Homo sapiens: one gene and its partner. The protein of the gene in region 2 interacts with the protein of the main gene of each other region in a pairwise test. Each region holds a gene or a part of one and is shown on either strand. Other genes may lie near its edges.

Region 1 (4,787 bases), on a different chromosome or scaffold from region 2:
CTCGCGTGGCGTCGCGGTTTCGGAGCACCAAGCCTGCGAGCCCTGGCCACGATGTGGACTCCGCAAGGGGCTAGGGACAGGCAGGGGGAGAGCCCGGGTTTGCGCACACCTTCCAGCCCCTGGAGGGAGCCTGCTCGGCTTCGAACGCCTTCGAACTTTTGACCTTCAAAGGAGTCCCTGGAAAAGGTCAGGAGCGCCTGCTGCAGGCACGGTTGCCGAAGGCCAGGCCTTCCTGGCGCAGGGGAGGGCCAGGGGAGGGAAGCGGATACTCAGTCGCTGTCCGACGGCGAGTTTTCGGAGCAGCAGGCTCATGATCCCGGGCCAGTGGCGAGAGCAGTGACACCGAGAACCCAAATCTCCGCGCCCCCATCCGCGGCCCGGTGTCCTCCCGGCCCCTGCTGACCTCCAGGTCACGCACCCCACTGCTCCACGGCTCTGCAGCCTGTGGCACACGGCCGAGAGTCCCCACATGATCTCGACGCCAAGGTAAGGAATTGCCCTGCGTCCTCTGAGCCTGTCTCTGGCCTGGGGGGCCGGGAAAGCTGCACTCCTGGAAGAGGTGGGGTTATGTGACCGCCGCTGCAGGGGTGCGCGGAGGACTCCTGGGCCGCACACCCATTTCCAGGCTGCGGGAGCCGGACAGGGGAGGGCAGAGGGGGGACAAAAGGACTCTTTAGGTCCAAAATGACCCTGAAGGAGAGTCCAGAATGCCCAGTGGCCGCGTCTGCAACGGAGTCTTCTTTCTCCAATTGCCTTCTGCCCCATCACCATGGGCCCCACCTGCGCCACCTGCGCCCACCCTGTGACCCTGGCTCAGCGACCTTGGCCCTTAATCGCCCAACGCCGATTCCTCAAAATTCCGGCTGCGCTGAATCGGGCTGCTTTTGCCGCCGCCCCGGCAGTTGGGCCCTGTTTCCGCCGGCGCCCTGGGAGAGGCCTCACCACTCGGCTGGGCTCCCTGGCCCCTCCCTTCCCCTGGCCTGAGCGCCCCTGCGGCCTCCCGCTCCTCCTGAGAAGGCGACAATCTCTTTGCACCTTAGTGTTTCGAGGACAGAAAGGGCAGAAGGGTCACTTCGGAGCCACTCGCGCCGTTTTCACGTGTGTGTGTAATGGGGGGAGGGGGGCTCCCGGCTTTCCCCTTTTCAGCTCTTGGACCTGCAACACCGGGAGGGCGAGGACGCGGGACCAGCGCACCCTCGGAAGGCTCGATCCTCCCCGGCAGGGCGCCTGGCCAACGAGTCGCGCCGCCTCCTCTCGGCCGCGCCTGCTGGTGACCTTCCCGAGAGCCACAGGGGCGGCCTCGGCACCCCTCCTTCCCTCGCCCTCCCTGCCGCCCATCCTAGCTCCGGGGTCCGGCGACCGGCGCTCAGGAGCGGGTCCCCGCGGCGCGCCGTGTGCACTCACCGCGACTTCCCCGAACCCGGGAGCGCGCGGGTCTCTCCCGGGAGAGTCCCTGGAGGCAGCGACGCGGAGGCGCGCCTGTGACTCCAGGGCCGCGGCGGGGTCGGAGGCAAGATTCGCCGCCCCCGCCCCCGCCGCGGTCCCTCCCCCCTCCCGCTCCCCCCTCCGGGACCCAGGCGGCCAGTGCTCCGCCCGAAGGCGGGTCTGCCATAAACAAACGCGGCTCGGCCGCACGTGGACAGCGGAGGTGCTGCGCCTAGCCACACATCGCGGGCTCCGGCGCTGCGTCTCCAGGCACAGGGAGCCGCCAGGAAGGGCAGGAGAGCGCGCCCGGGCCAGGGCCCGGCCCCAGCCGCCTGCGACTCGCTCCCCTCCGCTGGGCTCCCGCTCCATGGCTCCGCGGCCACCGCCGCCCCTGTCGCCCTCCGGTCCGGAGGGGCCTTGCCGCAGCCGGTTCGAGCACTCGACGAAGGAGTAAGCAGCGCCTCCGCCTCCGCGCCGGCCGCCCCCACCCCCCAGGAAGGCCGAGGCAGGAGAGGCAGGAGGGAGGAAACAGGAGCGAGCAGGAACGGGGCTCCGGTTGCTGCAGGACGGTCCAGCCCGGAGGAGGCTGCGCTCCGGGCAGCGGCGGGCGGCGCCGCCGGGTTGCTCGGAGCTCAGGCCCGGCGGCTGCGGGGAGGCGTCTCGGAACCCCGGGAGGCCCCCCGCACCTGCCCGCGGCCCACTCCGCGGACTCACCTGGCTCCCGGCTCCCCCTTCCCCATCCCCGCCGCCGCAGCCCGAGCGGGGCTCCGCGGGCCTGGAGCACGGCCGGGTCTAATATGCCCGGAGCCGAGGCGCGATGAAGGAGAAGTCCAAGAATGCGGCCAAGACCAGGAGGGAGAAGGAAAATGGCGAGTTTTACGAGCTTGCCAAGCTGCTCCCGCTGCCGTCGGCCATCACTTCGCAGCTGGACAAAGCGTCCATCATCCGCCTCACCACGAGCTACCTGAAGATGCGCGCCGTCTTCCCCGAAGGTGAGGCCTCAGGTGGGCGGCCGGGGACGCTGGGGAGCCCGGCGGCCCCGGCCCAGGCGGGAAGCGCAAGCCAGCCCGCCCAGAGGGGTTGCCGCGGCCTGGCGTCCAGAGCTGGGGCGTCTGAGGGAGGTTGCGTGAGGGTCTTCGGCTTCGGCGCTGGCTTGGGGCGAGGGGCCAGGGCCTTGGCGGCCCAGGCGACCAAACCCTCTCCTGGTCCAGGGCTGGGTGAGGGCGAATTACGAATTGTTCCAGGGGCAGGCAGTCCCCCAGCCCGCACGGCCAGCGAGTTCTTTCTGGTTTTGTTCTTTCTCCCTTTCCTCCTTCCTTCCTTCGCCAGTGCATTCTGGTTTGGTTTGGATTTTTTTCTCTCTTTCTTTCCTTTCTTTCTTTCTTTCTCTTTCTTTTTCTTTCTTTCTTCCTCTTTCTTTCATTCTCCCCTTCCTTCCTTCCTTGGCCCCCTCTCTCCCTCCCTCCTTCCTTCCTTCCTTTGCCAATGCATTGGTTTGTTTTCTTTCCTTTTCTGCTTTCCTTCCTTTCTTTGGAAGTTCACTCTGGTTTTGCTTTCTTTCTTTCCCCATCCCTTCCTTTCTTTATCCCTCCTTCCCTTCCTCCTTTTCTTTCTACGATTCCCTTTATTTTTCCTTCATTCCTCCCTCTTTTTGTCTCTTCTGGAGGAGGTGAAGGAGGGTCAGCTTCAGGCGCTGCGAGTCAGCGGGGATCACGGTGAGGCCCAAGCACTGCAGGCTGAGGCCACAGAGCGAACACTTGTGCTGAGCCGGGCCCTCTCGTGAGGCTGGGGTGCGGGAAGTCCGGGCAGGAGAGACCCGCCCCCGCCGTTGCTGAGCTGAGACCCGGCTGAAAGAGAGGGGTCCGATTAATTCGAAAATGGCAGACAGAGCTGAGCGCTGCCGTTCTTTTCAGGATTGAAAATGTGCCAGTGGGCCAGGGGCGCTGGGACCCGCGGTGCGGAAGACTCGGAACAGGAAGAAATAGTGGCGCGCTGGGTGGGCTGCCCCGCCGCCCACGCCGGTTGCCGCTGGTGACAGTGGCTGCCCGGCCAGGCACCTCCGAGCAGCAGGTCTGAGCGTTTTTGGCGTCCCAAGCGTTCCGGGCCGCGTCTTCCAGAGCCTCTGCTCCCAGCGGGGTCGCTGCGGCCTGGCCCGAAGGATTTGACTCTTTGCTGGGAGGCGCGCTGCTCAGGGTTCTGGTGGGTCCTCTGGGCCCAGGAGCTGGGAGGGCTGCGCCGGCCTCTGGAGCCCCGGGAGCCAGTGCCGAGGTAGGGAGACAACTTCCGCCGCAGGGCGCCGGACGGTCGGGGCAGAGCAGGCGACAGGTGTCCCTAGGCCGCAGGGCGCTTCCATAGCGCCATCCCCACCAGGCACTCTACTCGAAATCGGAAAGCTCGACCTTTTGCGTTCGCCTCTGCCAAGCCTGTTATTTGTGCTGGCCGCTGGGTCTGGAGCTGCGCTTCTCGGCCCCTCCCCGGTGGAGCGCAGAGGGCTGGTCTGCAAGCGCGGCCTCCAGCCCCGCGGCTCCCCGGCCCAGGAGCCAGGCGCGGGCTGACCCGGGAGCACCCGGCAGCGGAGGGGGCTGGAAGCGGACCCTAGGCCTCTCCTGTGCCACCCGGCCCTACCGCGCGGCCGCGGGGCGCTCTCCTCTCGGGCGCAGCGGTCCTTCAGCCCAGGGCAGGTTCCTCCCTTTCCTACTCGGAACGTGGCAAAGATACCCCAGTCCCAGCCCCTCCAGCTGAGAGCTGTTGCCCAAGGTCGTCGCTACTTGTCCGCTCAATGGTGACCCCTTGGCAGAGAACTAGGGATGATTCCACTCCGGTTGATGTTTTAGGGGAAATTAAAAGAACATTCGGTTTTCTGAGTCTCCTTCCGGGGAGGCGTGGTGGTAACTGGTTTGCTGGGAAGAGCCGTTCCTTAACCGCATGCAACAAAGCAGGTGTGGAATCCGGACGAGAGGGCACTCACTGCCTTCTGCCCCCTTTGGAAATAGAAAAAGCCTTCGAAGCAGCAATCCAAAGATCAAATGATTTGCGGTCAATGATTTCAATTAAACCAGAAATTAGTAAGGGAGGGCCGAGAAGACACGGCTGCTCAGAAGCTGTTCGCTGTTTGAGGGATTTCCCGGAGAGCCTGTTAAAAGATGCGAAGTGGTGGGTGTACCGCTCAGCCACCTTTAAACCGGCTCTGTGCGTTCTGGCTCTGGAAAGCAAGTCTCCAGGCATTTGGGCTCAGAATTGCTGGGCCCCGAGTTTGGGCGGGGGTGGTCCTTCTGGGGGTCAGGCCTTGAGCAGCTTGCACTGGTGGCAGGTTTGGGAGCAGTTGAGGGGCTTCCTGTGTGTCTTTTGGAGGGGGTGACCCT
Region 2 (5,003 bases):
CCCAACAAAGAGTTATGTGACTCCAAATGTCAATAGTCCCAAGGTTGAGAAAGTCTGTATTGCATAGAATTCGCTCTCACAAAGACTCCCCTTTTACAGATTAGACGACTGAGGCCCAGAGAAATAACGTGTCTTGGCCAAGGTTACCCTGCCAGTTGGATTTGGACTGGGATACAAATGCAAGCCCGCTTCATTCCATGGTCCATTATGTTCCAGCCATGTTCTCCCCTCGTGGTAGACAGAATTAATTTAAAGATGAGGAAACGGAGGCTCAGAAAGGTACCGTGAACAGTTTAAAGTCACAAAGCAGAGATACTCCAGAGGCCTTTATTAGGAATAAAAATATAAATAAAAAACCAGCTACCTTTGGACACAATTGACTCCACTACCCAAGCGTGACAGGCTCACCTATCTCATGTCCTTTACTCCCTGCCCAGGGGAACTTCACTCAGCCCAAGGCCCAGATCAAATGCTACCTTGCCCATGATCCCAAAGAAAGAAGTCAGAGAGGGCAGAAGCCACCCCATTCTCTCCCTGTGTCCTTAGGCACTTACAGTATTGAGAGGCCAATGGGAGGAAAATCCTAGGCTTTTGGAACAGGAATAAATAAGCAATGTTTCTGTCCATAAAATGACTACAGTCTAGAGGCGGATACTATGTGGATCACTTTATCCCCTGCAGAGACGATACAATCTCTGGTCCGGAAACACGGGTGATTAGGGATTGTATGGGCCATTTGAGAGTGGGGCCAGGCTTAGAGGGCCGTTCACACATGCAATAATAGTAAGAACAAACATTTACAGAGAACTTTCTAGGTGTTGGGCTTCACACATGCAATAATAGTAAGAACAAACATTTACAGAGAACTTTCTAGGTGCTAAGTACTTCCCATGGAACCCCGGGGAGGACCTTGGAGCTAGGTACCATGATCGTTCCCGTTATACTGATGAAAACACTGAGGATCTTGAAGCAAGGAAACCAGCCCAAGGCCACCCGGCCAGCAAGTGGGGAGCTAGGATTTGAACCTGAGCAGCTGACTCTAGGCCCCAGAACTTCCTCCCCTCTCCATACCTTCCGATAAGGCGGGTGATGATCAACATTGCCCAGAGCAACCTGACAAGAAGCTGGGTTTCCCAAGGCCTTATCCCATGGGGTGGGTGGATGGAAGGGGGAGCAGGCAGGGTACCTGCCACTTGATCAATAACTCAAGAGCAGGTAATAATTTCTTCTGGGAAAGGTGGAAAGGGCAGGGTCAGGGGGCAAAGAAGTTCAGAAAGAAAAGGAAGGAAGGAAAGAGAGAGATGGGAAAGGAAACGGGAAAGAGAAAAGTGAGAGCGAGCGCGCGCCACGCATGTTCCTTCCCAAGGTCGTGGTAGCACCGAGGGCACCGCGAGGGCCCGGCGTTCCCGGGAGGGGCCGTCACTGCCCAGAGAGGGGCCGTCACTGCCCAGGCAGCGGTCGCCCCTGACTTCCCGGGGCCGCGGAGGCGCGCGTGGCGGGGCTGGCTTGCCCCCGAGCGGCTCCGCAGCGAGCTTTCCCAGCCCGGTGTTTACTTGGCCCGAGCAGCGGCCGGACCTGCAAGCAGGAGCCTGCGCGCGGCGGGTGTCGCGTGTGCCGGGTGGGAGTGGCGTAGCCCGCGGTGACTGCGGGTTGGGGGGGCGCCACGCGTCCGGGCGCGGAGTTGGTACGCTCGGTTCGGCGTGCGCGCGGCCTCGGACTCCCGGCTCCGCGGGGCCCTTCCGGAGGCTCCCGCCCGACCCCCGAGCTTCCGACGGAGGCGCCGAGCGCCGCGCCGCGTCCCCAGGGGCCCCGTGCACGCGCAGAGCGCCTCTGCGGCCGAGCGCGGCGTGGCACTTGGCAGACGGTCCCTGGCGCGGGGGCGGGGGGCCAGCCGTCTGGGAGCCCCGAGGGCCGCCCCCTCCCGCCCCTCGCCCGGCCCCCGCGCGCTGCCTCCGCCCCCGGCCCAGCCGCCCGGCCCCCAGTCCCGCCCGCCGCGCCGGGAGCCCGGCCCGCCGCTGAGCCCGGCCCGCCGGCGCGCCCCGTCCGGGATGGGGCGCCTGGACGCCTGAGTTGCCGCTCGGCGCGACGGAAGGAGCCGGCGCCGCGCGGCCGCGCTAGAATGGAGGCGCCCAGCGGCAGCGAGCCCGGCGGCGACGGGGCCGGGGACTGCGCCCACCCGGACCCCCGGGCCCCTGGCGCCGCGGCGCCCAGCTCCGGCCCCGGCCCGTGCGCGGCCGCCCGGGAGTCCGAGCGCCAGCTGCGCCTCCGCCTCTGCGTCCTCAACGAGATCTTGGGCACCGAGAGGGACTACGTGGGCACCTTGCGCTTCTTGCAGTCGGTGAGTGTCGCTCGGGAGCTTGGGGACAGCTTTCCCTCCAGCCGCTCGCCCCGCTGCGGTCCCCACAACCTGTGGCCGTGGTCCCCGTGGGTGGAGAATTGCCTCGGGGGCGCCCCGCAGGGCGCGCGGAAAGCGGGGGGGATCCGAGCTCCTCCAGAGCTGTCGCGTCGCCTCCCTCCCTGGCCGGCGCACGGTCCTGCTCCGACCGGGGCTCTCCCGCACTCCACTTCCCCGCGGCGCGCGCTGCCCTTTTGTCTTTTCTTCCCCGTCCCCGCCTTTCAAATAGTTTTAAAATTAGTTACATCCGCGATGCAGGGGCTTGGGGACCCCGGCGGCGCCGGGAGCTGGCGCTCCTGCGTCTTTTTCCCAGGAATAACTACGCGCCCGGTGCACCACTCATCTAGGACATACCGTAGGAGCCCCAGAGCCCAACGTCCCTGCGCGTTGATGGAGTAGGATAAAACCTGAAGCTCAGAGGAGGGGCGGGGATTGACAGAACCCCAGGGTAGAATCCCCCATGCACAGGTTTTTGCTGGAGTTCGGGGAGAGTGGGTTTCGAACTCAAAACTCGGCAGTCCAGGCTCCCTAACTGCATCCACCCCCACCAACTCCCCATCTCCAAGTGCAAAACCACGGCCTCAGACTTTGTAAAATAACAACCGACCACTTACTATGTGCCAGACACCTTACATGTGTCATTAATTAGCAGGTTTAACCTTCACAGGCGGTCTATGAAGTAGGGACGAGTATTTCCCCCATTTTTAATTAAAAAAATTTTTTTTTGAGACGGAGTCTCCCTCAGTCACCCAGGCTGGAGTACAGTGGCGCAATCTCGGTTCACTGCAACCTCCGCCTCCCGGGTTCAAGCAATTCTCTTGCCTCAGCCTCCCGAGTAGCTGGGATTACAGGCACGCGCCAGCCACCACGGCCGACTAATTTTTGTATTTTTATCAGAGAGGGGATTTCACCATGTTGGCCATGCTGGTCTTGGACTCCTGGCCTCAAGTGATCCGCCGACCTCGGCCTCCAAAGTGCAGGGATTACAGGCGTGAGCTACTGGGTCCTGCCTCCTCCGTTTTTAAGATTGGGAAAGTTTAGCTCCAGAGGGGCCGGGTAGCTTGTCTGGGATCGCACAGCTGATTAAGTGGGGGTACTGGGCTTTGAACCGGGACTATCCCAGCTGGTGTTCTAAACCCCTATTCTATGCTGCATTTTTCTTTTGCTTTTTTTCTGTGAGAGGGAGGAAGGGGCCACTTCCCTACTCTCCTAGGAAGTGAGAAAAGTGGCCAGCGGGTGGAGGGGGTGGGACGGGGCAGAGCCTTGGATGGAAGTTAGGAGACTCTAAAGTCTTTAATCTCCATGCCTCCTGCTGGGGCCTCATTTACTCCCCTTCTCTGCTCTAGGAAGTCTTTTAATCCTGGTTCAGGAAGGGCTGGTGTGGGGGTGGCTCTTTCAAAGACCCTAGAGCCAGGCTTTGTAGCTCCTAGTCTTTGGGAGAAAGAGGGAGACTCTGGGGTCCTCTGGGGCTCCTCATGGCTTAGGGGTGCAGCTGAGGCTGTGTGAGATCAGAGTTCCAGCTCAGGGAGGAGACAGCCTTAGACTAGAGCCCTTCTGCCTGTGAAAGGAGATGTACTGGGGGCAGGGGGATGTGGGAGAGGGGGTTGTGCAGAAGCATTGAAAACCATTTGGCTAAAGGACCCTTCTAGGAAGGCCTGTAAGAATAAGGCAGGATTGGCTTTCTTTCCCATCCCTTCTTCTCTCACAGTTTCGGGGGTGGGGGGTGGGGGAAGAATTTGTTCTGTTAGAAGCTGGCAGTTTTTGAATTAAACATGTAGACAACCCTGGTGTCTCTGAGCAATGTCAAATTCTAGGGAACTCCTGACTTCTCCTTCTGAGCCACTCCATGCTCCTCTGCTTGGAAGAGAAACAGGAAATACAAACCAATTTTGATATTAATGGGAAAGAAAATATACCTCTCCCTCCCACGCCCCTGCCCTAGATGGTGTGTTTCATTTTAGAACAGATCTAGATTGTGTTTGAGTTAACTGTGGTTTTAAATCGTCCACGTGTAGAGTAGGAGGAAGCTGGAATAATGGAAATTGATTGGAGCCAACCATTCTTATTATTCAAGAAACAGGAAAAAAAAAGATTTCTCTACTTTCACATTATCTCCTTAACACTTTACATTTGCTGACTTCATCACATTTTTCTTTTTGTATCTGATGTGTCAGTTCTGAGATGAATTGGTTCTGACTTGGACATGTGTCTTGGACCAATCATGCTACGTGTCCTGACCTCAGTTTCCCCACCTGTGAAACAAGGAGCGGGGAATCCGGGCTTCCTTTCTGCCTGGGCCTTTTGTGTGTCCCCAAGCTGGTGCCAGAAACAGACGGATTGTGTAACCTGACCAGCCATACGTTGTTTGTGAGCCACAGGAGTCCTCTCTCATCTTGGCCCGTCAGGAATGGCCCCTAAACATCCCAAGGCATTTTCGTTTTCAAAACTAACCTGGGGCTTAGAGCTTCAGGAACTGCTAATTACCAAGGCTTTCCATGGTTGCAAGGCTGGCAGCCTCAGGTTGTGATTCTCTTCTGTCTTCCCACTCTCTCTTCTCAGCCTTTATATTTGCTAAGGGATTTTCCCTGCTGTCTCCTGGCTTGGAAGA

The links.
Region 1: the proteins of PREX1 (region 2) and SIM2 interact in a two-hybrid assay, tested with the Homo sapiens proteins (one large-scale study listed by BioGRID and IntAct).

Annotation. Positions count from the first base shown.
Region 1 is NC_000021.9:36,697,505-36,702,291, forward strand, and holds the start of SIM2 (single-minded homolog 2 long isoform), read left to right. Parts: upstream 1-1,610; 5' UTR 1,611-2,242; coding exon 2,243-2,417; intron 2,418-3,011; exon of another isoform or gene 3,012-4,787. UniProt on the Homo sapiens protein: Transcription factor that may be a master gene of CNS development in cooperation with Arnt. It may have pleiotropic effects in the tissues expressed during development.
Region 2 is NC_000020.11:48,824,977-48,829,979, reverse strand, and holds the start of PREX1 (phosphatidylinositol 3,4,5-trisphosphate-dependent Rac exchanger 1 protein), read left to right. Parts: upstream 1-1,980; 5' UTR 1,981-2,119; coding exon 2,120-2,338; intron 2,339-5,003.